7 linked regions of the Homo sapiens genome follow. The protein of the gene in region 1 purifies or fractionates together with the protein of each later gene. This does not show direct contact. Each region holds a gene or a part of one and is shown in the gene's direction. Other genes may lie near its edges.

Evidence for each region.
Region 2: the proteins of CLEC4D (region 1) and MYO1C purify together in Homo sapiens (affinity purification with mass spectrometry, with the first as the bait; one large-scale study listed by BioGRID). This does not show direct contact.
Region 3: the proteins of CLEC4D (region 1) and YTHDF3 purify together in Homo sapiens (affinity purification with mass spectrometry, with the first as the bait; one large-scale study listed by BioGRID). This does not show direct contact.
Region 4: the proteins of CLEC4D (region 1) and HADHA purify together in Homo sapiens (affinity purification with mass spectrometry, with the first as the bait; one large-scale study listed by BioGRID). This does not show direct contact.
Region 5: the proteins of CLEC4D (region 1) and CLPX purify together in Homo sapiens (affinity purification with mass spectrometry, with the first as the bait; one large-scale study listed by BioGRID). This does not show direct contact.
Region 6: the proteins of CLEC4D (region 1) and GLO1 purify together in Homo sapiens (affinity purification with mass spectrometry, with the first as the bait; one large-scale study listed by BioGRID). This does not show direct contact.
Region 7: the proteins of CLEC4D (region 1) and LANCL1 purify together in Homo sapiens (affinity purification with mass spectrometry, with the first as the bait; one large-scale study listed by BioGRID). This does not show direct contact.

The regions. Positions count from the first base shown.
Region 1 is NC_000012.12:8,511,908-8,516,661, forward strand, and holds the start of CLEC4D (C-type lectin domain family 4 member D), read left to right. Parts: upstream 1-1,595; 5' UTR 1,596-1,825; coding exon 1,826-1,853; intron 1,854-3,328; coding exon 3,329-3,421; intron 3,422-4,754.
Region 2 is NC_000017.11:1,471,658-1,475,813, reverse strand, and holds part of MYO1C (unconventional myosin-Ic), read left to right. Parts: intron 1-781; coding exon 782-876; intron 877-955; coding exon 956-1,002; intron 1,003-1,123; coding exon 1,124-1,204; intron 1,205-3,585; coding exon 3,586-3,691; intron 3,692-3,789; coding exon 3,790-3,907; intron 3,908-4,156.
Region 3 is NC_000008.11:63,185,396-63,189,551, forward strand, and holds part of YTHDF3 (YTH domain-containing family protein 3), read left to right. Parts: intron 1-751; coding exon 752-2,350; intron 2,351-4,156. UniProt on the Homo sapiens protein: Specifically recognizes and binds N6-methyladenosine (m6A)-containing RNAs, and regulates their stability. M6A is a modification present at internal sites of mRNAs and some non-coding RNAs and plays a role in mRNA stability and processing.
Region 4 is NC_000002.12:26,227,120-26,231,275, reverse strand, and holds part of HADHA (trifunctional enzyme subunit alpha, mitochondrial precursor), read left to right. Parts: intron 1-981; coding exon 982-1,084; intron 1,085-4,156. UniProt on the Homo sapiens protein: Mitochondrial trifunctional enzyme catalyzes the last three of the four reactions of the mitochondrial beta-oxidation pathway.
Region 5 is NC_000015.10:65,164,588-65,168,743, reverse strand, and holds part of CLPX (ATP-dependent clpX-like chaperone, mitochondrial precursor), read left to right. Parts: intron 1-1,958; coding exon 1,959-2,113; intron 2,114-4,156. UniProt on the Homo sapiens protein: ATP-dependent chaperone that functions as an unfoldase.
Region 6 is NC_000006.12:38,674,895-38,679,271, reverse strand, and holds the end of GLO1 (lactoylglutathione lyase), read left to right. Parts: intron 1-1,888; coding exon 1,889-1,977; 3' UTR 1,978-3,347; downstream 3,348-4,377. UniProt on the Homo sapiens protein: Catalyzes the conversion of hemimercaptal, formed from methylglyoxal and glutathione, to S-lactoylglutathione. Involved in the regulation of TNF-induced transcriptional activity of NF-kappa-B. Required for normal osteoclastogenesis.
Region 7 is NC_000002.12:210,431,760-210,435,915, reverse strand, and holds part of LANCL1 (glutathione S-transferase LANCL1), read left to right. Parts: intron 1-456; coding exon 457-529; intron 530-1,352; coding exon 1,353-1,429; 3' UTR 1,430-4,156. UniProt on the Homo sapiens protein: Functions as a glutathione transferase. Catalyzes conjugation of the glutathione (GSH) to artificial substrates 1-chloro-2,4-dinitrobenzene (CDNB) and p-nitrophenyl acetate.

The DNA.
Region 1 (4,754 bases):
GGCTGCAATCCTGGAGGCTGAGACAGTCAAGAGGGAGTGGAAGGGCCTCTGCTGCTCTGGGAAGGTATCTTATAGGGCAAATAAGCTCTTACTGTGTGCCTAAGAGAAAGGAAGAGGGAAGCGAGGCAGGTGTCATGGCCTTAAGAACTTTCTAGAGGTTTCTATTTATTGACATTTGACCTAGACCTCTTCATGAGCAAGGCGCAGCCTTGGGCTACAGGTAGGAAAGTCAGCATCCTACTCTCTCCTCAATTCCATCTGTTAATCCACCAACCCAAATCCCTCCCACCCCCACCTGAAGTCCAAATAAGGTAAAATGATAAAATGATGTGCTGTTCTCTCAACAGTTGGCTGAGTCTGAATTGGAGGGTAGGAAGCATTTGAAGCTCTGCCCATTTAGTTCCAGAACAAAAAATAAGCAGAGGCAGGAGGTGGAGAGCAAAGACGCTGGCAGCCCTGCGTCTGGTCTTTATAGCTGTGTCTTTGGATTTGTAGGCCACTCCTCAACTTTTCAGCTCCCGCACGATTCCTTAGGGCAAGCGACCAGTGGTTGACACCGCATATACACCTGGCTTAAAGTTATTGACTCGCTGCCAGTTGGAGACCCAGCTGTCCTCTGGACTCATCATCGCAATGATTCCATCAAAGGAGGAGCTGGTGCAGCCATATAGCATCTCTCAGTTACCCTTCATCTGTAGATATGCATCTCAATAGTCACAACCATCATATTCAAACTGGTCTATAGTACCTTGACCAGTGAACACAGCAAACAGGCCCACAGATGCCACAGGTCCTTCAGCACCGTCTCCAGGGCCATCTTCTCCAATGAGAAGAGCAACAGCAAGGAAGATGGCCACAGCCTGAGCACCCGCAGGAAGTAAACAGCTCGTTAGCCGGGTCTCTTCTTATAATTCCATCATGAGGACCCCATTCTCATGACCTCATATTAAACCTAATTACCTCCCAAACTTTTGACCTCCAAATGCCATTACGTTGGAGGGTAGTGCTTCCACCAATGAATTTTGAGGAGATACAGACATTCACTCCCTAACAGTGCTATAAATGAAGTCAGGGACCCTGATGGTGTCTTTATCACAGAATCTTACATTTTCTTTGTCTTTGCCTTAACACAACTCTTTTTGCTCACCTAGAAAGTTCTTGGGATTTAATTAACTGCTCTATCATCTCTTCCTCAACTCGAAAACAAAGGTTGCTGTGTCTTCACATGCCATGTACACACAAGGTATACTTTAAAAGTTTTTGTTCATTGTTCACATTGTCTTTTGCTCTCTTAGACTCAACTTTTTATTCAGTCCAGAGAACTTTTTAGTATAGAACTCACCCCAAGAATATAACTGCCTTTGAAAATATAATATTCACAAAAAGAATTTAAAAAGAGGGGACATTTACTAAATTTTTATTGGGCATAACAATTATTTCTTTTAGGGCGTTGCTAAATTTTTTGTCTAAATGAAAAAAAAAACAAATTGAGAAATTCCACATTTCACACTGATCTAGTGATCTCAACATACTTGTGGGTTTCTACTAACTGTTGTTTGGTATTGCTTTCTCAATTTCCTTTTTTTTTTTTTTTCGCCTCATCTCCCGGAATGTATCAAAGGAAACCCCTGTCTTTGAAAAAGACTTCTTTTGAGCTAACTTTCTTATACTGGTACCTTTCTAATCTCACTACAATATGTAACATTGGTGTTCGATCTCAAGTATTTCTGAATATATTCCCCTATCCACAGAAATATACTCTGGGGGAAAAAAAATAGAACAAATTCTTGCCGTCCTGACCATTGAACAAGAGACTAATTAGACAATGGGGCTAGAAAAACCTCAAAGTAAACGTGAGTACTTTCTCTCCTTTCCATTTCAAAGAAGCAGATGGAATTATACTAATTTAAAACATATGAATTGATGGTAGTTTTAAAGATTGTTGATGATGACGGGGAGAAGGAGGTGGAAGGAAATAAAAATGACGTTGGTGAAGAGGAAGGACATAGAGTCAAATAAGTTGGATAACAGAAACTTCTTTATAAAATGTATATTGGACCAAGAGGGGAGATAAAATATATAAAAGAGAAATAAGATGAAAAGAAAGAGAGTAATATGAGAAGATTCTTTTAAAGAAAAAAGAGAAAAGGAAGATGTAGAAAAAGCATTTAGGCTTATGCTGTATCAGAGGCTCTAACTGTCCCATTTTATGTTTGACTTAAGTGACACCAGTGGATTTGTATTGTGATAATATTAAATAATATTTTTGATAGATATATAGAACAAGTGTGGAAATGTTTAAATTAAAATTAAAGTTTTACTTTATCTCATCACCCTACCATGGCAAACTGTAATCACAGTGTGATCCTATTGAATTACCTTTTTAGGTAACAATATTTCTTAGAGATTTTTTGCATCAATATATACTGATTACATGCTTATTTAATTACTATACAGAATATCATTGTGTGAAGGGACCATAATTTAGAATTTCCACTATTGATAATATACATGTAAATATTAGATTACAGTATGTGTTTTCTATTTTGAGAAGTACTGCAATGAATATCTTTTAACATAAACAAGCTCAATTATTTCTATAGAATAGACACCTGTAATTGAAATTATTGTGGCAAATGAAATGCATTTAAAAATGGATAAATGCCACTAAATTGATCCTTCTAAAAGGCATTCCTAATTTTCCAGTCCAGGCAGCAGCATTTATTTTCTCACTAAGAGTGCTTATTTCCCCTCAGCCTTGCCAACACTGCATGTACTTAATTTACTTAAAAAATCTGATGTGTGAAAAGTTATACCACAATCTTTTCGTTTACAGTTCCCTGATTGGGCATATTTTTGTTTGATTAGTGGCTATTTATAACTTCAGCAAATTAAAATTTCAGCAAATTTCCTGCTCAGAGTTTTGCTCAGTTTTCTAGTTGATTTTGAAATACTTTATCCAGTGCGGATATTAATATTATGAGAAGACTTTCCTTTCATACGTTCCTTGACTCTAACATTGCTTGTGTTATATAGAAGTTTTAATTTTTATGTACTCAAATTATCTATTCTAATGGCTCTTGGGTTTTGTATCTTACTTATAAAATTCTTTTCATTTCAAAATTACCAAGAAATTTTACATTTTTCTTTCTTATTTATTTATTCATCAATAAGCTCTAAAATTGATTTATTTGGAGAAAATATTTATGCTCTTCTCTAGATCTGAAATATTTGGTTTGCTGTCACTTTTAGATTGCTCCTTGGTAGAATTAGCTTTCCTAGCTTGTAGCTGAGAGGAGGTTAATCTCTATTTTTCTTTTGGTCCTAGTGGAAGGAGGCATGCATCCCCAGCTGATACCTTCGGTTATTGCTGTAGTTTTCATCTTACTTCTCAGTGTCTGTTTTATTGCAAGTTGTTTGGGTAAGTTATTAGCCAAAGTAGAACTCTTCTTGAATTATTATTTCCAAACAACTTTTCTGAAGTTGCTCTAAGCCTTTTGGTATCTTGATTTTTCCTAGCATAACCTATCTATAATATCTTCAGGGTCTTGCACTGAATATTCAGAGCTACATTCTTGACCTTCTGTCTTTCAATGGTGGTACCTTGTGATAGAGATTGATTGATGGAATTTAGACCATTTTCTGTACATGTAAAAGTTGGTTACTATAGCAAATTTCCCCCCATTTTGGACTGGGATCACAAAGGGATACATCTTATGAGAAAAGAGTAAGCAGAAGAAAAATAACTTTCAGATAGACTGGCTTTGAAAAGAACAAGGTTGGAAGAATTGTTCTCTCTCTCTCTTTCCCTCTCTTTCTTTCTTTTTTCCTTTCTTTCAACCTCTTTATTGATGTACGATTGACATATGAAAACCTGTACATATTTAATGTATACATCTCAATTTGGGGGATTAGTATACACCCTTGAAACCATCACCACCATTAAAAAAATTCTTTCTGATATCAAACATAAAATAATTATAATTAAAGTAATATGATATAGGTGCAAGACAAATAGACTAGAGGAAAATAAAGGAGAGCTTGGTTACAGATCCTGCATGTATATAAGACTCTTTATATAAAACAAAAGAAGATATCTCAGACATATGGGAAAAGGACAATTTTGTTCAATTAATGTTGCAGAGCCCATTGATTATTTATATTTAAAAGATGAAATTGGTCTCCTGCATCACACTGTATACAAAAACAAATCTAGAGCAGATTATTGTCCAAAATGTGAAAAGTAAATCAATAAAGTTTTAAGAAGATAAATGGAGAATATCCTCATGACCTGGAGGTAGAGAACGATTTCTTAAACAAGCCACAAAATGCACTAGAAAATAAACATTGACAAATTATACTACATTAAAATGAGTTACTGTACAACAAAACATACCAGTAACAGTGAAAATAAAAAGCCATAGGAGAAGATACTTGTAATGCATATAATTAATAAATAATTCACATGTAGATTATATACAAATTTTTTCAAACCAGTAGGAAAAATACTTACAATAAAAAAACTGGGCAAAGTCTTAAATAGGTACTAAAACAAAGAGAAAAATGAAATGTCTAATAAACACACAAAAGTGCCAGCCTCATTAATTAATTATCAGGGAAATGCAAATGCAACTCACAGTGAGACACCTTTGCAAACATAACAGGATGGCAACAATAAAAAGTCTGGCACTACTAAATATTGATGATGCCATGGAGCAAATGGACCTCTAGTGAATTGCTTCTGGTGGAGTTTA
Region 2 (4,156 bases), on another chromosome or scaffold:
GCCAGCCTCCCAGGTTTCTGCTGGAATCACAAGGCTGCCACAAACATCTCCGTGCCTTCAATCTTTGTCCGTGTCTCTGGTTAGCTGCTTGAAATAGTTCTTAAAAGCAAATGGGTGAAAGGGTATAAACACGCCTAAGACTTAAGTGCTCTCTTGGGGCAGCAGATTCCATTCTGAAAAGTAGTGCGCAGCTCACCACCCCTTCTGAGCAGAGCCCGCAGCGGCCGAAGCAACGAGAGTTTCCCTCCCTGCAGCGTACCCTGGCCGTCAGGAGGCCCAGGTCCCGGTCCTGGCACTGTGTGGCCCTGGCCAAGGCCATCTACCTCTCTGAGCCTCCATGGTCCGCTCTGATCAGGGAGGCCACTGGCCCTGCCTGGCCTGCCTCAGTGACCCAGCCCTGGGGGTGCACCTGCTCTTTTTTTTTTGGAGTGTAGTGGCACCATCTCGGCTCACTGCAACCTCTGCCTCCCAGGTTCAAGCGATTCTCCTTTGTCAGCCTCCTGAGTAGCTGGGACTACAGGCGCCCACCACCACGCCTGGCTAATTTTTGTATTTTTGGTAGAGATGGGGTTTCACCATATTGACCAAGCTGGTCTCGAAGTACTGACTTTGTGATCTACCCACCTCGGCCTCCCCAACTGCTGGGATTACAGCCGTGAGCCACTGTGCCCGGCCTGGGGTGCACCTGGGCAGCTGGTTCCTGCTCCTGAGGCCCTTTCAGCAGGCAGAGGGCTTGGCTCAGGCCGGCAGCCATCTGCAGCTTCCTCCCTGTCACCCCCAGGCACAAGCTGGCTGACCAGCGGACCAGGAAATCTCTGGGCCGAGGGGAATTCCGCCTTCTGCACTATGCGGGGGAGGTGACCTACAGCGTGACCGGTGAGGATCCTGGGGCTGTGTCCCCACAGGGGCCTGCGGGGAGGCTCTGTCTCACCTCACGTCGGTTCTCCCCTCCCAGGGTTTCTGGACAAAAACAATGACCTTCTCTTCCGGAACCTTAAGGAGGTGAGGAGGACGTGGGGAGGCCGGGGTGGGGGTGGGGATAGCCCACAGCTCTGCACCTGTGTCCAGGAGCCTGTCCTGCCTGTCCCTGTGCCCCACCCTGACCCCGGCTCTGCCCACACAGACCATGTGTAGCTCAAAGAATCCCATTATGAGCCAGTGCTTTGACCGGAGCGAGCTCAGTGACAAGAAGCGGCCAGAGACGGTGAGGAGGTGGCGGGACCGGGCGCAGGGGTGCATGCGCCTGAGTGTGCATGAGGGCCTGTGTGAGCCTGGGAGCTGGCAGCGTGCGTGTGAACGCGTGTGAGCCCGTGCACATCTGCAGGTGTCTGTAGGGGGCTGCCTTAGGTGCCTCTTTGCCTACTTTTTTTTTTTTTTTTTTTTTTTGAGACAGGGTCTCGCTCTGTTGCCCAGGCTGGAGTGCAGTGGCGCAATCTGGGCTCACTGCAACCTCCACCTCCCTGGTTCAAGCGATTCTCCTGCCTCAGTCTCCTGAGTAGCTGGGATTACAGGCGCCTGCCACCATGCCCGGCTAATTTTTTGTATTTTAAGTAGAGATGGGGTTTCACCATGTTGGCCTGGCTGGTCTCAAACTCCTGACCTCGGGTGATCCACCTGCCTCGGCCTCCCAAAGTGTTAGGATTACCGGTGTGAGCCACCACGCCTGTCCCTGTTTGCCTACTTGTGTGTGTGTGCTGTGTCTATAGTGGAGTCGTGTGTCTTCAGTGTGGGCTGTGTCTGTAGGGGAATCCTTGTGTACGTCTGTCTCTGTGGGTGCCCATATGTTGACAGCTGCCTCTGTGCGGTTGCTGTCATGTGTCTACCCACTCAGCAGACATTTATAGCAGACACTGCCAGGCACTGAGGTACCACAATGAGTGGGTGTGCCTGCAGCAACATGTGCACAGGGTGCTTTGCAAACTTAGAAGAGGGAACAGCAAACGGCCTGACGGGGCGGAAGGGGTGAGGGGTTGGGGAGGCTCCCTGGAGGAGGAAGCATTGGAGATGACTTGGGAATGTCAGATGAACCTATAGTGAGGGCCCAGTCCAGACACAGAGAGTCTAAAAAGGCCATGAGGTGAGCAGGAAAGCGATGGCATCAAGGAGAAGGACCGGGGGAAAGGCAGGCATGGCCAGGGTGCCAGATGCAGGGAGGGCTCCAGCGAGCTGAAGGCGGAGGTACGGCTGTTGGGCTTGGCAAAAAGAGGGTCAGGGGAGCCCCAGAAGAGTGAGGTCAGTGAGTCCATAGGGAGGTGGAAGCCAGACTGCCTGGCAGGGAGGGCATGCAGGCGACATGCTGCCCAGGGTGTGGCTCACTGTGCCCCTGCCCGCTGCTGCCGTCCACCCCACCCTCTCCCGAAGCACCACATCCTCCCGGCCCTAGCGTCTCCCTGCTGAGGATGCCTACACACCCTCCCGCCCAGGCCTCTCCAGCAAGCCACAGACTCGTGTATCTCATCCTCTTCCCCTAGGTGGCCCCAGGGCACCCTAGATCCCACTGGTCTATAACAAACGGGCCCTTGGTCTGCCCCTCCAGGCTTTCTCCTTCTTTGACCCAGTCCCCCAGGCCAGAAACCTGGGTGTCATCCCCTTTTTTGTTTTTGTTTTTGTTTTTGAGACGGAGTCTCGCTCTGTCACCCAGGCTGGAGTGCAGTGGCGCGATCTCGGCTCACTGCAACCTCTGCCTCCTGGGCTCACGCCATTCTCCCACTTCACACTCACGAGTAGCTGGGATTACAGGTACCCGCCATCGTGCCCGGCTAATTTTTTTATTTTTGTAGAGATGGGGTTTCACCATGTTGGCCAGGCTAGTCTTAAACTCCTGACCTCAGGTGATCCGCCCGCCTCGGCCTCCCAAAGTGCTGGGATGACAGGCGTGAGCCACCGCGCCCGGCTCCGGCCCCCTCGTTCTTTTCTCTCCTTGTCTCCCTTGTCCAGCCACTGGATCTTGCCGGAGTACTTAGCAGCTCCCCCTCAGTCCTTCCCTGTAGCCACTTCACCCGCCCCTCCTCCTTATCCTTTAAAGCTCAGCAGAGCGTCATTTCCAGAAGACGTCACCTGGTGCCCCCTAACCCTCAGACTGGATGAATTGTCCCTTTGTGGGGCTCTCAGAACCCACAGGCATACACCTGCTACTCTCGGAACACCGGGATTGTGAGTCTTTGCCAAGGAGCGTGCTCCTCCGCCAGGCCTGAGATCCTTCCAGGTCCCGCAGAGCAGCATACCCAGATACTAGCTGAATGCGTAGCATGGGACATGCTGTTTAGGAACGCAGCCCTGAAGTTCTAGAAAGAAAAAGAAGGGCCACTAAAGGGAGGTGTAGCACTGAGGTTGCTGGGAGACCTGAGCAGGAGTTTTAGGCTGGAGTGAGGCTCGTAGACTGAGGTCTCTCGCCCAGCCAGAGGGGTAAGGGGTGGAGTCTGGCCCCCTCCTCTGCTGCGAGGAAGCTGTGGTGGGAGGAGTAAGGACCAGGCAGAATCAGAGGCTGCTGCGCGCGTCACCAGCCAGGGGAGTGGGGTACTCGCTGCTGGGGTCAGCAGCTTTAGCCCAGCTCCGGCCAACCTCCCATGCCTCTTGGCTCGCCAGGTCGCCACCCAGTTCAAGATGAGCCTCCTGCAGCTGGTGGAGATCCTGCAGTCTAAGGAGCCCGCCTACGTCCGCTGCATCAAACCCAATGATGCCAAACAGCCCGGTAGGCCCCTCCCACGGGGGACTTCGGGGCCGGGCCTCCCCTGCAGGAGACAGGCCGTCAGCGCCAGCCCGCTGACCACGGCGCTCCCCCTACCCCAGGCCGCTTTGACGAGGTGCTGATCCGCCACCAGGTGAAGTACCTGGGGCTGTTGGAAAACCTGCGCGTGCGCAGAGCCGGCTTTGCCTATCGCCGCAAATACGAAGCTTTCCTGCAAAGGTGGGGGCAGGTCCTGCTCGGTGCCAGGGAAGGGGAGCGGGAGGGTAGGAGCCCCTAGGTCCCATGAGGGCAGACAAGGGTTCTCGGCCCCATTTTAGAAATGCGGATGCGGAGGCCCTGGGCTGCCCTTGGTGGAGGCCCTTGGTGCTGCGGTCCTGACATCAGGCTGGGTGGAAAGAATACCCGGCTCCCCCAGGCCGTGCCCTCCAGGAGCACCCGGTCAGGGGTACAGGAGGCCTCCGTCCACGT
Region 3 (4,156 bases), on another chromosome or scaffold:
TACTAAATTAAAAAAAACCCAAACCTGTTCTGTAATAGGTTTATTGTGTAAAATTTGGGGAAGAGGAGAGTATAAAGAAAAGTCATGTCTGTTATTCCACCAATAAGAAACTATGATAAGGAATTTGTTTTATGTCTTTTTTTGAAATGAACAAGGCAAAGCAAAACAAAAAGAAATTTGCATCATGCTATAAACGTAATCTTGAATCTTCTCAAGACTGTGAGCATTTCTCCATTTTTTCCTTAATGAAAGTACAAAATCTAATGGTTGAACTGGATTCCATCATATAGATAAGCTGTAATTCCTCTATTATTCGGCAGAGTTGTCTAGTTTATTTAATCCTTGTGTGTAAGTGATTGCATACATCAATTGATTAAAGTACAGCTGGCTGTAAATGGTAATTTTGTGTCCACAAAGTTTATATATTAGCCTTTTGTAGAAATTATGATATTTTTAAATTGTGACAGAGGGCCTGGCTCTTCAAACAAAAATAATACTCATTATACCCCCACTCTCATCCCTGAAAAAAGCCATATAGGTTAGTTTGTAAGAAATATTTTAAGATGTGACTACTCATCAGCAAATTTTTCTGTTGATAAAACTGGATTTGAAATTTTAATTTTGTTTATCTAGAATAGGTACATCTTTTATTTTCATTTACTTAAAACTTCTTGATTTTAATCTTTCAGATTTCTTTTTTTGCTCTTTTAAGAGGACATTTCGCTACTGATTGTGATATTTTGTTTTGCAGAGTAACAGCTATCCACCAATGTCAGATCCATACATGCCTAGTTACTATGCTCCATCCATTGGATTTCCATATTCTCTTGGGGAAGCAGCGTGGTCCACAGCTGGAGACCAGCCTATGCCATATCTGACAACCTATGGACAAATGAGTAATGGAGAACATCACTATATACCAGATGGTGTATTTAGTCAACCTGGGGCATTAGGAAATACCCCTCCATTTCTTGGTCAACATGGATTTAACTTTTTTCCTGGTAATGCTGATTTCTCTACATGGGGGACAAGTGGATCTCAGGGACAATCAACACAAAGTTCTGCTTATAGTAGCAGTTATGGCTATCCACCTAGTTCTCTTGGGAGAGCTATTACTGATGGACAGGCTGGATTTGGCAATGATACTTTGAGTAAGGTGCCTGGCATTAGCAGTATTGAGCAAGGCATGACTGGACTGAAAATTGGTGGTGACCTGACAGCTGCAGTGACAAAAACTGTAGGTACAGCTTTGAGCAGCAGTGGTATGACTAGCATTGCAACCAATAGTGTGCCCCCAGTTAGCAGTGCAGCACCTAAACCAACCTCCTGGGCTGCCATTGCCAGAAAGCCTGCCAAACCTCAACCGAAACTTAAACCCAAGGGCAATGTGGGAATTGGGGGTTCTGCTGTACCACCACCTCCTATAAAACACAACATGAATATTGGAACTTGGGATGAAAAAGGGTCAGTGGTAAAGGCTCCACCAACCCAACCAGTTCTGCCTCCTCAAACTATAATCCAGCAGCCTCAGCCATTAATTCAACCACCACCATTGGTGCAAAGCCAACTGCCTCAACAGCAGCCTCAACCACCACAACCACAGCAGCAACAAGGACCTCAGCCACAGGCCCAGCCTCACCAAGTGCAGCCTCAACAGCAGCAGCTGCAGAATCGCTGGGTAGCTCCTCGTAACAGGGGAGCAGGCTTCAACCAGAACAATGGAGCGGGCAGTGAAAACTTTGGTTTAGGTGTTGTACCTGTCAGTGCTTCACCTTCTAGTGTAGAAGTGCATCCCGTGCTGGAAAAGCTAAAGGCCATAAACAACTATAATCCCAAAGACTTTGATTGGAATCTGAAGAATGGACGTGTGTTTATAATTAAAAGCTACTCTGAGGATGACATACATCGTTCCATTAAATACTCTATCTGGTGTAGTACTGAGCATGGTAATAAGCGTTTGGATGCAGCTTACCGTTCCCTGAATGGGAAAGGCCCACTCTATTTACTCTTCAGTGTGAATGGCAGTGGACATTTTTGTGGAGTGGCTGAAATGAAGTCTGTTGTGGACTATAATGCGTATGCTGGTGTCTGGTCTCAGGATAAGTGGAAGGGCAAATTTGAAGTTAAATGGATCTTTGTCAAAGATGTTCCCAATAACCAATTACGGCATATTCGCTTAGAAAATAATGACAACAAACCGGTTACCAATTCAAGGGACACTCAAGAGGTACCCCTAGAAAAAGCTAAGCAAGTGCTTAAAATAATTGCTACTTTCAAGCATACCACCTCAATCTTTGATGACTTTGCACATTATGAAAAGCGTCAAGAAGAGGAGGAAGCCATGCGTAGGGTAAGAATATAGTAATTTTTTGTTTGGGGTCTTTGTATTGCTGGTGGGGTGCATGGATGGGTATATTCTGAGTTTAAGAACTTTCTGTGAAGGAAACCAACTACTTAAGAAACAACTCTACAAACACCCTTGAAGGTATCTATGTGTGTCCTATATGAACCATTTCTTCTTTCCTTTCCCAGGGTAACTCACGCTGAGTTAGCCTCTTGCTCATTCTTCATACTCCCTAGATGATAAAGGCCATTGGGCCTCAGTGTTTATCATCAAAGCTGAATGAATTTTGGCATTTGTAACTAAACAGACTTCATGAACTAACCAGGGGCTCTAATCATTAATATTATTAATCATACTAACATAGGAGAAAATATATTTAGAGTTTGAAACAACTTTTTTTTTGAGATGACATCTTGCTGTGTTGCCCAGGCTGGAGTGCAGTGGCTATTCACAGGTGCAGTTATGGCGTATAGCCTCAAGTTCCTGGCCCCAAGCAATCCTCCTGCCTTAGACTCCCAAGTAGCTGGGACTACAGACCTGTACCACTGAACCTGGCACTTAAAACAAGTTTTTATTTATTTATATTTTATATATTATTTAATTTTTTTTCAGACAGGGTCTCTCTTGTCCCGGCAGGAGTGTACTGGCGTGAACATGGCTCACTGCAGCCTTGATCTGCTGGGCTCAAGTGATCCTCCTACCTCAGCTTCCCGAGTAGCTGGGACTACGGTCACACACCACCACGCCTGGCTAATTTTTGTATTTATTGTAGATAGAGGGTTTCACCATGTTGCCCGGGCTGGTCTCCTGAGCTCAAAGGATCTGCCCCTACCCCTCTGCCTCCCAAAATGTTGGGATTACAGTCCTGAGTCACTGCACCCAGCTGAAACAACTTTTAAATAAATGTTTTACTCTAATTTTGTGTTTATAAGAAATTACATATATATATATATATATATATATTTTTTTTTTTTTTTTTTTTTTTCTTTTGTGAGATGGAGTCGCTCTCTGTCGCCCAGGCTGGAGTGCAATGGAGTGGTCTTGGCTCACTGCAACGTCCGCCTCCCGGATTCAAGTGATTCTCTTGCCTCAGCCTCCCGAGTAGCTGGGATTACAGGCACACGCCACCATGCCTGCCAAATTTTTGTATTTTTAATAGAGACGAGTTTCACCATGTTGGCCAGGCTGGTCTTGAACTGCTGACCTCGTGATCCGTGCGCCTCGGCCTCCCAAAGTGCTGGGATTACAGGCATGAGCCACTGTGCCTGGCAAAATATGTTTTTAAAACATAAAACTCTTGAAGTATTTTTATAATTTTTATACTTAAAGCACTTGTACAAAATAGAGGCTTTGCAGAATTTGATTCCTAATTCTGTTATATACCCTCTGTAAGATTGAGGGAGACATTCCTGAAATAAAACATGCTGTTTATCCTTGTATTATATTGGCCAGAATATTTTTATTTTTATTTTTTAAAAATATCCTATTGAGTGGCCCATATGGGGATTAGCCCCCCAAATATTGGCTAGACTTTGATCACAGGGCCACAAGAGTCAGTTCAACTAGGGAAAGTTTTCTCTTCCAAACTGTAACGTAAAATTGGGGTCCTATTTTTAGGTGGAAAGAGAAAATGGATGGGCTTTTCTATAGGGGATACATTTAAATTTCTTTTGAAACTTAGTAGGGGTAAAGTTAGAAGCTCCTCCAGTAAATAATGCTTGTTACTATGGAAAGCATGTTCTTATGGAATGCTTGTTCCTATGTAGAAATTAAGATAAAGAGGTAACTTAACTCTATGTAAAATCAGTGATT
Region 4 (4,156 bases), on another chromosome or scaffold:
AAGTTGATCTCAATTGAGCACAAAAGAAAACAAGGTTTATGGTGTTAATTTTCTAATAATAATAATGTGCTTTCCTTCATAGGAATGTCATAAGGATTTATTGAAAGAATGAATATGCATATATGTGTATCAAAAATATTTGCTGAGTTTCTTTCTTTCTTCTTTTTTTTTTCTTAAACTATAGCTGGTATTTGAATGTTGCTAGAAGCCTTTCTTCTAGTATGCCATATAAGCAGCCCTAGCTGAGTTCTATTTTTGTTAAGCTTAAAATTCTTTTTAAAGACTTTGTCAAAACTATCAGGTTTCTCACAGTCTTCTCTAGTTTCAATATGAGAATTTTATTTTATTTTATTTTTGGGACAGAGTCACTTTTGTTGTTCAGGCTGGAGTACAGTGGCATGATCTCGGCTCACTGCAACCTCTGCCTCCGGATTCAAGCAATTCTTGTGCCTCAGCCTCCCAAGTAGCTGGAATGACAGGTGTGCCCCACCATGCCCAGCTAATTTTTTGTATTTTTAGTAAAGACAGGGTTTCACCATGTCGGGCCAGGCTGGTCTCAAACTCCTAACCTCAGGTGACCCGCCTGCCTTGGCCTCCCAAAGTGCTGGAATTACAGGTGTGAGCCACCGTGCCTGGCCAGAATTTTACATATTATATATATGATAGAAAAAAACCCCTCAGAATAACAGAAATGTACAATTTTAGGAAACATGAAATTCTTTACCTTATTAGTATAAGAATCCTATATATTGAATTAAGAGATAAAGACATTTTTGCTTCAGCTAGAGGTATCTAATCCCCAAAGTTACCCAAGTGTATATCAGTATATTAAATATAACTTATCTATGCTGTTGACAAATAGCATAAACATATGGCTTGACTTTTCTCATTTTAATATTTGTTCATTTGATGATTTGTAAACTATATAATTATCACCCTGATTTTTTTCCCCCTATATTCTCATCCTTGCTTGCCTGTTAGGTGGGTGTGCCTGCTGCTTTGGACATGATGCTGACTGGTAGAAGCATTCGTGCAGACAGGGCAAAGAAAATGGGACTGGTTGACCAACTGGTGGAACCCCTGGGTAAGTGTTAGCACATCTCAGAGTCAGACCTTATAAAGTTACTTATTTTCTTAAAGAGTTAACCTCTTAGGCCAGGCACGGTGGCTCACACCTGTAATCCCAGCACTTTGGGAGGCTGAGGCGGGAAGATCACTTGAGGTCAGGAGTTTGAGACCAGCCTTGCCAACATGGCGAAACCCTGTCTCCACTAAAAATGATTAGCCGGGTGTGGTGGTGCAAACCTGTAGTTCCAGCTACTTGGGAGGCTGAGGCAGGAGGATCGCTTGAACCTGGCGGGGCTGAGGTTGCAGTGAGCCAAGATCATGCCATTGTGCTCCAGCCTGGGCAACAGAGCCAGACTCCCATCTCAAAAGAAAAAACAGTTAACCTCTTGAATATCACAGGAAGCACAGAGAGAAGCTCAAACTCTTAAGAAATGAGTCATTATTCTAAGGAAGGAAGTTTTATAAAATAGCTAATACTAAATCATTTTCAACATCACCCTGATTTTTATTTTGCTTTATAATTAGAACATTAGGAGTACAGAATTCAGTCAAGTCATTATTTTTGGTTCTTAAATTACCTGTATCATTATCCATGCATAACCTTCCTTCAGTTTCTTGTGTCTGTTTTAGTAATATAATAAATGAAACAACCAACCTGAGAATATTAACAATAATTGATATCTACTGATGGGCTACTTCCTCCCATTCAGTTTCTTTGCCTCCCTTTATCCAAAGAAGCCACTATTCTGACTTGTGTGTTCATTACCCTCTTATATTTATTGAAAATCAGCATTATTGAGATATTACTTACATAATAGTAAATGTATTAATTTTGTGTGTGTGTGTGTGTGTGTGTGTGCGCGCGCACACATGTTGGGGTCTCACTCTGTTGCTCAGACTGGAATATGGTGGTGTGAATATAGCTTGTTGCAACCTCAACTTTTTGGGCTCAAATGATCTTCCCACTTGTGCCCCCCGAGTAGCTGAGACCACAGGCATACGCTGCTACACCAGCTAATTTTTTATTTTTTGTAGAAACGAGATCTCACTCTGTTTTCCAGGCTAGTCTCAAACTCCGGGCTCAAGTAATCCTCCTCCCTCAGCCACCCAAAGTGCCGAGATTTACAGGTGTGAGCCACTGTGTCTGGTGAAATTGACCAACTTTTAATGTATAATTTGAGTTTTGAAAATGTATATAGCTGTGTAAACACTGCCACAATCCAAAAATAGCCGTGCATGGTGGCTCACACCTGTAATCATAGCATTTTGGGAGGCTGAGGTGGGAGAATTGCTTGAGGCCTGGAATTCAAGACCAGCCTGGACAACAGAGCAAGATCCTATCTCTTAAAAAAGAATTTTTTTTTTTCAATTAGCTGGGTATCATAGTGTATACCTGTAGTCCCAGCTAGTCAGGAGGCTGAGACAGGAATATTGTTTGAGCCCAGAAGTTCAAGGCTGTAGTGAGCTATGATCACACCACTGCACTCCAGCCTGAGCAACAGAGTGAGATGCCATCTTTTAAACAAAAATTTTTAAACATTTCTGGTATGTAGTTTGTTTTAATCTTCGTTCACTTAGCATAATGCTTTTGAGATGCATCCATACTGTTGCATATATCAGCAGTTTGTCCTTATTGCTGAGTGTTACTCCATTGTAGAAATGTACCATAGTTTGTTTATCCGTTCACCAAATGATGAGCATTTGAGTTGTTTCTAATTTAGGGCTATTCTGAATAAAGCTGCTATGAACATTCATCTTTAAGTCTTTATGTGGGCGTGACTGGGCGTGGTGGCTCAAGCCTCTAATCCCAGCACTTTGGGAGGCTGAGGCAGGCTGATCACCTGAGGTCAGGAATTCAACACCAGCCTGACCAACATGGCGAAACCCCATCTCTACTAAAAATACAAAAATTAGCTGGGTGTAGTGGTGTGCACCTGTGGTCCCAGCTACTTGGGAGGCTAAGGTAGGAGAATCACTTGAACCCAGGAGGTGGAGGTTGCCGTGAGCCAAGATTGTGCCACTGCACTCCAGCCTGGGTGACAGAGCGAGACTCTGTCTCAAAAAAAAAAAAAGTCTTTATGTGGACAAATGTTTCATTTCTGTTGGGTAAGTACTGAAGAGTGGATTGGCTAGTCCATATAACAGATATATATTAGCTTTTGAAAAAAAAAGTTTGGCCTGAGCAACATAGCAAGACTCTGTCTCAACAAAATAAAAAGTTTTAACTAGTTGGGTGTGGTGGCACATGCCTGTAGTCCTGGCTACTAGGGAGGCTGAGGCAGGAGGATTGCTTGAACCCAGGAGTTTGAAGTCACATGGAGCTATGATCAGGCCACTGCACTCCAGCCTGGGTGAGAGAGGGAGACCTTATCTCTGGGAAGAAAAAAAAAAAATTTAGAGATGAGACTTTGAGTCTTGCTCTGTCACCCAGGCTGGCCTCAGACTCCTGGGCTCAAGCAGTCTTCCTGCCTCAGCCTCCCAAGAAGCCGGGATTACGAGGCATATGCCACTAGTATTTGCTAGGTATGTGTTTGCTTTTCTGTCAGACTGTTTTCCCAAAGTGGTTATACTCTTTTGCATTCCCACCAGCAGTGTATGAGAGTTCTAGGTACCAACCACTTTGCATGGTCAATCTTTTTAATTTTAGACATTCTAACAGGAATGTAGTAACAGTTCTTTTTTCTTTTTTTTTTTTTGAGACAAAGTCTCGCTCTGTTGCCCAGGCTGGAGTGCAGTGGAACAATTTTGGCTCACTGCAACCTCTGCCTGCCAGGTTCAAGCGATTCTCCTGCCTCAGCGTCCCAAGTAGCTGGGACTACAGGCGCCCACCACCATGTCCAACTAATTTTTGTATTTTTAGTAGAGATCGGGTTTTACCATGTTGTCAGGGCTGGTCTCAAACTCCTGACCTCAAGTTATCCCCCTGCCTTGGCCTCCCAAAGTGCTGAGATTACAGGCGTGTGCCACCACACCCAGCTGGAATTAGTCATATTTCATTGTGGTTTTTATATTACCCTAATTACCAAAGATATTGAATATCTGTATATCTTATTTGATAAAGAAGCATCTGTTCAAATTTTTTGCCCAT
Region 5 (4,156 bases), on another chromosome or scaffold:
TACTTTAAGTTCTAGGGTACACATGTACAACGTGCAGGTTTGTTACATAGGTATACATGTGCCATGTTGGTGTGCTGCACCCGTTAACTCATCATTTACATTAGGTATATCTCCTAATGCTATCCCTCCCCCCTCCCCCCACCCCATGACAGGCCCCGGTGTGTGATGTTCCCCACCCTGTGTCCAAGTGTTCTCATTGTTCAGTTCCCATCTATGAGTGAGAACATGCGGTGTTTGGTTTTCTGTCCTTGCGATAGTTTGCTCAGAATGATGGTTTCTAGCTTCATCCATGTCCCTACAAAGGACATGAACTCATCACTGTGTATCCACAAATTTTTTTTTTTTTTTTTTTTTTTTTTTGAGACAGAGTCTCACTTTGTCGCCCAGGCTGGAGTGCAGTGGTGCAATCTCATCTCACTGCAAGCTCCACCTCCCGGGTTCATACCATTCTCCTGCCTCAGCCTCCCGAGCAGCTGGGACTACAGGCGCCCACCACCACACCCAGCTAATTTTTCTATTTTTAGTAGAGACAGGGTTTTACCGTGTTAGCCAGGTCTCGATCTCCTGACCTCGTGATCTGTCCCCCTCGGCCTCCCAAAGTGCTGGGATTACAGGCCTGAGCCACCATGCCTGGCCAAAAATTTTTAAAAGAAAAAAGAGACTCTTTTTATCCTCACTTTAAACTACCTTTGTATTGCTTTCAAAGTCTGCATGATTATCTTTAAATCCAATCAGTATGACTGAGAAAGCAGTATTTTGTTAGTTTCTTAGTGGTTTTTTGATCAGAGAAATAGGAACTAGTGGAGTAAAGATAAAATAAGAAAGATATGAAATAATTATATATATATTTTTTTCTGAGATGGAGTCTTGCTCTATCTCCCAGGCTGGAGTGCAATGGCGCAATCTCAGCTCACTGCAACCTCCACCTCCTGGGTTCAAGCGATTCTCCTGCCTCAGCCTCCCGAGTAGCTGGGATTACAGGTGTCTGCCACCACGCCCAGCTAATTTTTGTATTTTTTTTTTTTTTTTTAGTAGAGACGGGGTTTCATCATGTTGGCCAGGCTGGTTTCTAACTCCTGACCTCAGGTGATCCACCTGCCTCAGTCTCCCAAAGTGCTGGGATTACAGGCATGAGCCAACACGCCCGAAAAATGCTCATGGGTTTAAGAGAATGTAAAGAATATACATTTTTTACATTTTTAGGAATTAAAATAGATTTATCTCTTTCAACTTTTGTATATGTTTGACATTTTTTATAATATTGGAAAAATATATGAATCTTGTATTTTACTTTTTTAGTTTGTTCATTCAAGTATTTCAATAAAATAGATGATTACTCCATATTCTCAAAGAGGTTTTAAATCTTTTTTAGTGGGCCGGGTGCGGTGGCTCACGCCTGTAAATCCCAGCACTTTGGGAGGCGGAGACGGGCAGATAACAAGGTGAAGAGATCAAGACCATCCTGCCCAATATAGTGAAATCCTGTCTCTTCTAAAAATACAAAAATTAGCTGGGCATGGTGGTGCACCCCTGTAATCCCAGCTACTCAGGAGACTGAGGCAGGAGAATTGCTTGAACCCAGGAGGCAGAGGTTGCAGTGAGCCGAGATCACACCACTGCACTCCAGCCTGGCAACAGAGCGAGACTCCGTCTCCCAAAGAAAAAAAAAAATCTTTTTTAGTGAATGGAAAGTTGGAAAAATTTCACGCAATCTTTTCTTTTAAAGAAGTATATCACAAAATGAAAGGACCTAATAGAAATGAGCAAAAGGTAGTTGACTGATCTATCTTTGTAGTATACTTGCTATATAAATGAGGCTGTTTGTGTGGCAAGTAGATTGAACAGCAAGTCTACTTTTTGTCAGGTGCGTAGCTTTCATTTACAGTGGAGTCTTTAAGGTTAAACACTATTGGAATTATTTTTTATTTCCCTCTACTTATGTCTGTTTTCTTTTACAGCATCCACCCGTTTTGTCAAGTGTGAAAAGTGTCATCATTTTTTTGTTGTGCTATCTGAAGCAGACTCAAAGAAAAGCATAATTAAAGAACCTGAATCAGCAGCAGAAGCTGTAAAATTGGCATTCCAACAGAAACCACCACCTCCCCCTAAGAAGGTATAAGTCTTAAGCTCAGTCTTACAAGTATTTTATCTTGAAAACATTCCATTGCTTCCCTCTCCCAAGTTTACACTGAATCCTAATACTAGTATATAAACAAGTATTATAGGTTCATAATATGGACCATATGTGGCTAAATTGTTATTGCCTTTTGGAATTTAAATATGGGGTCTGTTGCTTTTTCCCATGTTATGATTACTGTATTCAGTGGCAGTGAAATATAGCTAGATAATTATTAAAATGTTAACTTGTTAATACCAAGTTAATCTGAAATAATATCTACAATAGAGCAAGCAACTTCTGATTTATTTTTGTTCATATGGACCCTTAAATAACACCAGCCTAGGCTGGTCCACTTGACTAGCCTTAAAAAAAAAAGCCTGCAATTATCTCCCTTAAATTGGTCTATTTTATGGTAAAACAGCCTTCAGTCTAATAATGTAAGTAAGTAGTTTTTTCATAGCCAGTGTGCCGGGCTGCTCCGTATAGCACTGTGGCTTTGGTAGTGTGGACTCTTTAGAAGTCTCAGGCAGAGTATGATTTGGTCCTGTGAGATGTAACAGAATGTACCACCAGCTCCATTGGGTATTTGGTGTGTGCTTTTTGAGAACTGGGAACCCTTGTACCCTGGCTATGTGCCTTCTGTTCTGGCTGTGTCTCAGATGTTTGCACACTTAGATTATTTCTCACTGCCTCAGTGTATCTTTCTTCTACTGTGTTTAGATATCAGTGCATTTGTCTCTACTTCCAAATGTGCTGTGACAGATTTAATGTCATTGGTATAATTTGTAAGGAATAAAGATGTTTAAAACTATAATAAAATGTATATGGTCAACAACTAAAGAATTTGTCATTAAAAATGGAAAATATATTGGGCTTTATATTCTATACGAATTTGTGTAGACTTTAGACATGTGAGTTAAAATTCCAGGCAGTTTGGCCGGGTGCGGTGGTTTGGTTCACTCCTGTAATCCCAGCACTTTGGGAGGCCGAGGCGGGCGGATCATGAGGTCAGGAGATCGAGACCATCCTGGCTAACATGGTGAAACCCCGTCTCTACTAAAAAAATACAAAAAATTAGCCCGGCGTGGTGGCGGGTGCCTTTAGTCCTGGCTACTCGGGAGGCTGAGGCAGGAGAATGGCGTGAACCCGGGAGGCGGAGCTTGCAGTGAGCCAAGATCACGCCACTGCACTCCAGCCTGGGTGAAAGAGCGAGACTCCGTCTCAAAAAAAAAAAAAAAAAAAAAAAAAATCCAGGCAGTTTAACTAATTTCAGGAGTTTTTGAATTATTTATTTTTTAATCAGGGTTTCACTCTGTTGCCCAGGCTGGAGTGCAGTGGCACACTCATGGTTCACTGCAGCCTTAACCTCCCTGGGCTCAAGTGATCCTCCCACTTCAGCCTCCACAGTAGCTGGGACTGCAGGTGTCTACCACTATGCCCAGCTAATTTCTGTAGAGACAGGGTTTTGCCATGTTGTCCAGGCTGGTCTGCACCTCCTGGGCTCAAGTGATCCATCCGCCTCAGCCTCCCAAAGTGCAGGGATTACAGCCGTGAGCCACCAAGCCCGGCAGGAGTTGGTTAATATTAATTCACCAACCATTTCATTTCTATTCACTAAAAACTTAAAAAATTTACCCCAGGTTCCAAGCTGTTGGCAATAACCAACTGTAGAATAGAGCTTTAGCTACTATTAAGAATAAAGTTTTTAGGGCTGAGCTTGGTGGCTCATGCCTGTAATCCCAGCACTTTGGGAAGCCAAGGCAGGAAGATTGCTTGAGCCCCAGGAGTTCAAGACCAGCCTTGGCGACACAGTGAGACCCTGTATCAAAAAAAGAAAAAAATATATTTTTAGAAAATAAAAAAAAATAAGAATACAGTTTTTAGAGTCTCAGATAAATGAGTAGCTTTAAAGTTAATGTCTGAGAAAAAATTAAATTTACTAAAACACATAGATACTGATAGTATAATGGCTTTTGATTATGTAATGCCTGTTTCTGAAAAGAGTAGTTTTATAATGTTATCTTTGTGAAGAATGTT
Region 6 (4,377 bases), on another chromosome or scaffold:
GCCTGTAGTCTGTATGCCTAGCTACTCGGGAGGCTGAGGTGGGAGGATTGCTTGGGCCCAGGAGTTGGAGGCTGCAGTGAGCTATGATCCACTGTACTTCATTTCAGTATAAACGACAGAGCAAGACCCTGTCTCCAGAAAAAAAACAAAAATAGCTCTTGGTCCATTATTCTAATATTTCTTCTGTTTGAATCTACAGTCCATTGCTTTGGGGGTGTTTTATGGTTATGTTTCTCAAATTATTATTTTTTGCCTCTGAGCTTTTTTCCCCTGCAACTGTTCGCTATTCTAACACATCAAGCAGTGTGAATAGGAGAATGGCCAGATCCCTGTCCTTAACAACCCACATGATCTCAGGACAATGGGCTGGATAAGCCTAGGCCAGAGATTCCTAGGCACCTAGAAATGAGACTTAAATTTATTTCACCTTCCACAAAACACCTCTTCAGGTTGGATCTTCCCACTTCATCCCTCAGGGAAGAGTATTAGTAGGAGACACTTCCGATAGTGTTATTCCCTAGCCCTGGGCGTGGAGAGAGGGCTGGGGAGATCATTCGGCCCTACCAGTTTTTCTCAGTTTCTCACAAGCACAAGGCTCCTGCACTGCCCTTGTTTACTGGTAAGGACATCTGAACAAGCGAGAGGGCAGGTGCCGATGCACACAGCAGTGAGGGAGGAGCAAGAGCAAAACTCTGTTCTCTCGCAGCCATTATGCACTGCCTTCTGGTCCAGGCCAGAACTACCACCTCCCACACAGCCCAAGTTAAAACAGTCACCCGGCCCCATCCTCACCCATTCTCCCCAGCTGTCACCAGCCGGGTTTCTTTCTTTCTTTCCTTTTCTTTTCTTTTCTTTTCTTTTCCTTTTCTTTTCCTTCCTTCCTTCCTTCCTCTCTCTCCCTCCCTCCTTCCTTCCTTCTCTCTTTCTCTCTTTCTCTTTCTCTTTCTCTTTCTCTCTTTCTTTCTTTTTCCTGCATTTTCCATCTATGTTCCTCTAGGATTGATCTTGGAGAAAGGAGGCAGAGATAAGAGTCAAACCAATTCAACATAATGGTCCCCAAATAAATTTCTGAGGTCATATTTTTCCATTTAAGCAAACAGCTCTGACATACTAGACTCTCAATCTCAGTTTTGAATTCCTGGGAGAAAGACTCTCGCAGAGCTTGGGTTGCCTAGGATAGTATTTAAAAGGGTTTGTATGACCCAAGCATCTGGGTCTTTTGGTTGTGGGGGTAAGCCATGCTACCAGCTCCCTTCAGCACCTCCCTATTTTCTTTTTCTTCTTTAAAATAAGACAATTTCTGTAACTACTGAACTGGTAGTGTGGTATCATGAAGGTGAGGCAAATGCCTGATACCTAAAAGATGCAGCCAGTCCCACAGTTTATTTCAGGAGGGCTGGTATTTGCAATGTGTGCAAGATAACATTTTAGTCATTATGAAAAGTATGACTTTTCATACTTTTCTGACAATAAGAATTTTTAAAATTTAAAACTGTAAACAAAATAATGTACTTCATTAAAATGCAAAGTAAATCTTTAATTAATAAAAGTTTTTAAGGCCAGGTGCAGTGGTTTGTGCTTGTAATCCCACCACTTTGGGAGGCAAGGCAGGAGGATTGCTTGAGGCCAGGAGTTTGATAGCAGCCTGGGCAGTACATTGAGATCCCGCCTCTACAAAATCAAAAAATTAGCCAGGCAAGGTGGTGCGTGCCTGTCGCCCCAGCTACTTGGCAGGCTGAGCTCAGGAGGTCAAGCCTGCCTTGGGCCATGATCATCCCATGCACTCCAGCCTGACATTCAGAGCAAGACCTTGTCTCAAAGAAAGAAAAACATTTTTATGGTGTTTTCTTTTTTAGTCTTTTCAATAATGAAAATTTTCATTTTACAGGTAAAATGAAAGGCCTGGCATTTATTCAAGATCCTGATGGCTACTGGATTGAAATTTTGAATCCTAACAAAATGGCAACCTTAATGTAGTGCTGTGAGAATTCTCCTTTGAGATTTCAGAAGAAAGGAAACAATGTGATTCAAGATATTTACATACCAGAAGCATCTAGGACTGATGGATCACTGTCCCGATTCAAATTATTCTTCAGTCCATTTCCCCTTCCTATTTCAGCTGTTCCTTTTCACCTAACTGTTCAGTCATTCTGGTTTTCAAGCAGTGCTTTATCTCATGTCCTTGAATATAGTTGTGTAACTTTATTTTTTAGGTAATAATTAGAACAGTTCCCTTCAGAGGCTGCATTTGCCTTCTTCTGCCACCTAAATATTACTTCCCTTCAAATCTGCCTTTGAATCATCATTTTTAAAAAAAAATTAACATGTTTTTGTTGTAGTTATCTTCTGGGGTTTCAATTCCTCAGAAACAACTTTTTTCACAACGGAAAGGAAAGAACACTAGTGTTCTTTCAGTAAAGTACAAAGTGTTTATTTTACAAAAGAGTAGGTACTCTTGAGAGCAATTCAAATCATGCTGACAAGGATACTGATAGAAAAAGTGATTTCTTCTTATTATAAAGTACATTTAAAGTTCAAGGACTAACCTTATTTATTTGGGAAAGGGGAGGAGGAAGGAAATGATATGGTACCCAGACACTGGGCTAGGCTGCAACTTTATCTCATTTAATACTCCCAGCTGTCATGTGAGAAAGAAAGCAGGCTAGGCATGTGAAATCACTTTCATGGATTATTAATGGATTTAAGAGGGCATCAATCAGCTCAACTCAAGATTTCATAATCATTTTTAGTATTTAGATTGTGCCTCAAAGTTGTAGTACCTCACAATACCTCCACTGGTTTCCTGTTGTAAAAACCTTCAGTGAGTTTGACCATTGTGCTCTTGGCTCTTGGGCTGGAGTACCGTGGTGAGGGAGTAAACACTAGAAGTCTTTAGTACAAAACTGCTCTAGGGACACCTGGTGATTCCTACACAAGTGATGTTTATATTTCTCATAAAGAGTCTTCCCTATCCCAAGGTCTTCATGATGCCAGTAGCCATATATGATAAATTATGTTCAGTGATAACTTAGTTATCAGAAATCAGCTCAGTGGTCTTCCCCGCCATGATTCACATTTGATGAGTTTTTAAAAATCAAAGTGATTTTGAAAATCTCTAATGGCTCAGAAAATAAAAACATCCAGTTTGTGGATGACTATATTTAGATTTCTCTAGACTCTAGTGGAAGACCTTTGGAAAGGCCATGCCAACCGTGCTTGTACTGCTAGAAGCACTTTATGTTTCCTTTTTGGGTGAAATGGATTTATGTGAGTGCTTTAAACAAATAGCAATACTTATAGACTGAAATAAAATGAAACTTCAAATAAGACTATGTTTAATTTGTAAACCTTTGTCCATCATGTTCTTTCTTTAAAAAAAAAAAAAAACAACTCCCCTTAGTGAGTACTGAAAGGATTTGAAAAGGCTTGTAGGCTCATTCTGAAGAGAGAACAATTGTGATTCTGTACAGCCCGTAAAGCAGGTAGTGTCTATGGATAAGGGAGTGTGGGAAAGGTGGGAAGAAGAAAGTGAATACGGAATAAAGGATTGTGGTAGATAAAGTGCAAACAGAAGAATATCAAAAGGTAAGGAACTTATGAAGACCAATTTCACATGTTGAGTGCTAGAACTGACAAACGGGAGGGCTAATACATTCACAAATTCAGTAATTTAAGCTTTATTTCCAAGGAAAGAAGCCTTCTCCACTTGCTGAGTAAAACTTGCCAAAAGATAGCCCTTGCTCATTCTTTAAATTCATTCCTATATGCATTTTTTTTAAATGTACAGTTGGCCCTTGAACAACATAGGTTTGAACTCCACTGGTTTATTTATACAGGGATTTTTTTCAAGCAAATGTGGGTTGAAAATACAGTACAAAGGGGGCTGACTTTTCATATGCCAACTGTGGGACTTAAGTATGCACAGATTTTGGTATCCATGGGCAGTCCTGGAACCAATCCTCCACATACACCGAGGGACAACTGTATATGGTAACACTACGCCTTGTTAGGGAAAAGAACAATTCACTTCCAAATTCACTTACCTGAGAAGTTGTACGAAAGTACAAAGTAGGTCACAAGAAGTAAGTTTTCTTATTTTCCATGATCATGGTCAATGTAAAACAAGTCAGTCTCCTATGAGCCCTACATAGCTAAGGCTAGAATGATTATAATACAGGTGGTTTGAATGAAGAGCAGATGGCTGAAAGGGAATCACTTGAGGCTTTCCCACACAGTATTTTGACCATGATTGCATAGAGTGTGTCTTAGTTGAGGCAATTTTAATAAAAATACCATAGACCGGGTGGCTTAAACAACAAACATTTATGTCTCACAGTTCTGGAGGCTGGGAAGTCCCAAGATCAAGGCACCAGCAGA
Region 7 (4,156 bases), on another chromosome or scaffold:
AAAAAAAAAAAAAAAAAAAAAAGCAGGTCTCCCAGGAGGTTGTAGAAAGAGTTCTAGTTCATCTGATTTAATTCATTTATCCCTAAAACCATAGGTCTTGGATAACAAATACAGTTATTTAAGGAAAACCTTGAAAAGCCTTTCAATTAAATTAGCATTCCTTTAAAGGGACATAATTCTACTCAACAGCATTAATGGGAGAAAAAAATAAAGATGTAGGGTGATTTTGTGCCTTTCTTCTTGAATAACCTTGTAGATACGTGACTCAGACAGCTCATTAAATTCCTCCCATGCTGTGTACTCTTTCAAACCATCCTTTTCTCTGCATTAATCTCCTTTCTCTGATGTGAAGGTAGTGTTTGATTTTTCAGAGTAATTTGTATAGACAACCTCTTAACTTTTGGGGTTGTCTCTGGAAGAAATCACTATACTAATTTAACTTGGTCTCATTTTCAGTTTGCTGAATGGTGCTTAGAGTATGGAGAACATGGATGCAGAACACCAGACACCCCTTTCTCTCTCTTTGAAGGTATTTTGTACACTTTATTTATTTGCCCTATAATATCAGCATCTACTTCTCTGCTTGGTAATTAATGTATTTAAGTTTTAGCAAAAAATTTTATAATTATTCTTAAACTACTTTTTTATTTCCTAATATGCTAAATCGATATTAAAAATCAATTAGCACATGTAATACCACAGTCCCAATACTGGTAGTCATCAGGTGACTCCCTTTTATGGAGCCAGGCACATGTTGGGCATTTTGCAGACGCCCTCATAAATCATTCAGCAAAAACATACAGGCACTACTACCTTCATGTCATAGCCGAGGAGACTGAGGCTCAGGAGCTTATGTTTGGTAAATGGCAGGGCTGTGACTTGAACTTGTCTGGCTCCATTCTTTCTCCAGTCTTCCACCGGGATATAAGGCTGAACACCTCACTAGTGATCTCTTCTAATGTTGAACTGCAGTGTATGTAAACGTAGATAGATTCACACTTCATTTAAATCATTGCCGTTAATATTGTAATGTTGTTAATGTTAAAAAATGGAGCCATCCTTCGTTTTTGCAGAGTTGTAACTGCTCTCGGGGGGTGTCAGTGAGGTGAGGAAAAAGCCATAGGATGCCGAAGGAGGAGGGCCAAGAGGACACCCCCACCCTCCAGTGCGGCCTTGATCCAGACCTTAGGGACGAGGCCATCACTGGTGGGCACCCTTTGTTGATGTTTGTGTGTTTGAATAGACTGAAATGCTGTGACTTTTTTTGTCAATAAAGATATGGGGGAAAAAGAACCATCCTATGAAATGGAGTCATTTGGTATAATAACTTTTGCCTCTTTCTCTTTCTTCAGGAATGGCTGGAACAATATATTTCCTGGCTGACCTGCTAGTCCCCACAAAAGCCAGGTTCCCTGCATTTGAACTCTGAAAGGATAGCATGCCACCTGCAACTCACTGCATGACCCTTTCTGTATATTCAAACCCAAGCTAAGTGCTTCCGTTGCTTTCCAAGGAAACAAAGAGTCAAACTGTGGACTTGATTTTGTTAGCTTTTTTCAGAATTTATCTTTCATTCAGTTCCCTTCCATTATCATTTACTTTTACTTAGAAGTATCCAAGGAAGTCTTTTAACTTTAATTTCCATTTCTTCCTAAAGGGAGAGTGAGTGATATGTACAGTGTTTTGAGATTGTATACATATATTCCAGAACTTGGAGGAAATCTTATTTAAGTTTATGAATATAACCATCTGTTACTGTTCTAAAAATGTTTAAAAGAAACTCAATACAGATAAAGATAAATATGTGACTATTATTGGGTATTACACTTCACTTCTCTTTAATATTTTTCCTCCAACTGGAGGGCAGACAATTTTCTGACTTGCTTTTCTCTAGGTGGTTCATTTTGAAAGGGGACAGAAATATAACTAAATGCTTCCAGGAGAAAAATTCCAAGAGTTACAATCTGGACTTGGTACCTAAATATCATTTTTTAAATTCTTGATGCCTATTTGGACTAGAGGTAAACATACTTTCAGATTGGCCTGTTTTTGTCGGTAAGGCATACAGCCTTCAGAAGCCAACATTTTTAATCAAAAACTTATAAAACATGATGATCATTGTGAAAATTCTGAGTTGAAGGTTAGTTTAAGATAAGCTAACAATAACAGTCTGTGTTTTCTCTAAAATAATCTGAGTTTTTTGGAACTCTTTATTTAAATATGTGTGTTTTTCAGTATTCAAATAAGATCAGGAAGCCAATTTTCTATGTATGAATATGCTTTAACCTAGGATTTCAGTCCACTCTGACTGACTTTCTAAACTTTAACTTGGGTTTTTACAGTGACTATGCATTAGTGCTGACTCTTTGGTATAAGCCATAAAATATTTTCCTTCCTATCAATTTATCTGAACTTTGGTCTTTTCACTAAATTGTACAGTATTCTACTTCTGTTTAAAAAGGGGAGATGAGAAAGGGAATACTATCTAACCAATAACTTGAACAAAAACACTAAACTAAGCATTTAATAGAAATGCTTTTTATTGAGGAGGTATTATCCAGAGTTCATGCTTAGAACAAATGCATCTTTGCGTATCCTAGACTTAACAATTCATCAGTTTCTGAGACCACAGAATCAGGTTTTCCGTAGTAGATAAAGACTCTCTGGTGCTTCAAATTCTGTTCAAGTGTTTTGACTCATCAGCTTCTACTCTTTCTATTACTGCCTTTGCCTGGCTTGTTTTGTCTCTTTGCAACTGATTTTGCAAAAAAAAATTGTAGCTTTAAAATAACAGGGTCTAAGTATTTTAAATGTGCCTATTTCACAGCTCTCTTGGTCACAAAAACATGCTATTTTTATTGGAACTTCAAACCAAATCCCCACTGAGTGTGTACTGGTTCCTGCAGGTAGCAGTCTCCTATTATCTCCTGTTTAGCACCAAAAGAGCTAATATTATTGGAAACTGACCTTTTAAAGGCCACTGGCAGTAGGATTTAAAAAGCAGCCCACTGCTCAGTTTCCAGGATCAGCTTCCTCCTTCTGTCACTTGTGTAAGTTGGCACTACCTTGTGCCTCTCAGATTGCTGAAGTGCTGCTGGTAAGCATGTGCATGCTCTGCCTTTCTTGTGAAAGTTTTCAATCAGCGATATCAGCACTTACAGTAAGAAGTAAAAGTAGTGCACAGCAAAGCTAATTTGCCTTTGCCTGGGGTGTTCAGCTTGAAAGAATAAAGCTCATTTGGTTTAGTTAAATGTCTTACTCTACTGTGCCTATGCTTTTAGCTGCGTTACTAAGCAAGGGAAAAATAACAGTTTCTCTGAGCCAGAGAAGACTTGATCACAGTTCTCCAAGCATCGTGATAGCAATGCTTAACCCCAGGAAGATTTCAAGGCAGGGAGAAGAACATTTCAAATAAGATTCTTGTTAACCCATTTATGCCTAGTGTTCCATTATTGGAATGCTAAGCTTGTGGGAGTCATTTACATCCTACTGCTCAAAGTCATTGCCAAGGTCTGATTTTTCACACAAAAAATTGCAACCCCCAGCATAAATGGGTTAGCTACTGTCATCAGTTAGCAAATTCATCCACACAAACACAATTAGAGTTTGGTTTTTTTTTAAGCTTTTCAAAACTTACTAAACTGGCACAATTTTATATGTATGCTATTTGTTGTATTTATGCTTAAGAGCAAAAAAGTTTTGATGGGATTTTAAATTCAGGCAAAGCCTACAACGCTGAGACAATCCCCTAACAACATGGTAGTAACTAAAGAAACTTTTATACTAGGCTTCTTAGTTTTAAAAGGAAGTGGCATCATTGTTTCAGTTCTAGTTTGTATTTTTCTCTCAGATATTTTTCTTCTTTAAAAATCTTTCCCAGAAGTTGGTTCCTAGAAAACTCAATACCATCATCTCTTATCTCTATACAGGGACTAGGTAATAAAACCTTCAAAGGTTGTCAAAGGTCATCAAGCAGTGTTCATTTATCCTGTCACATGTTTCTGTTTCTATAGTAATTTAGAAATTGCAAATAGTTAACTTTTCATCATGTAAAAAGTTAACATTATCCTATTTCCATAGATACCATGGACGGCGGTGTGGCCTGAGTTGTCAGTCTTTAATCCTGAGTCATGTGGCTCTCTTTTCATCTTTGATG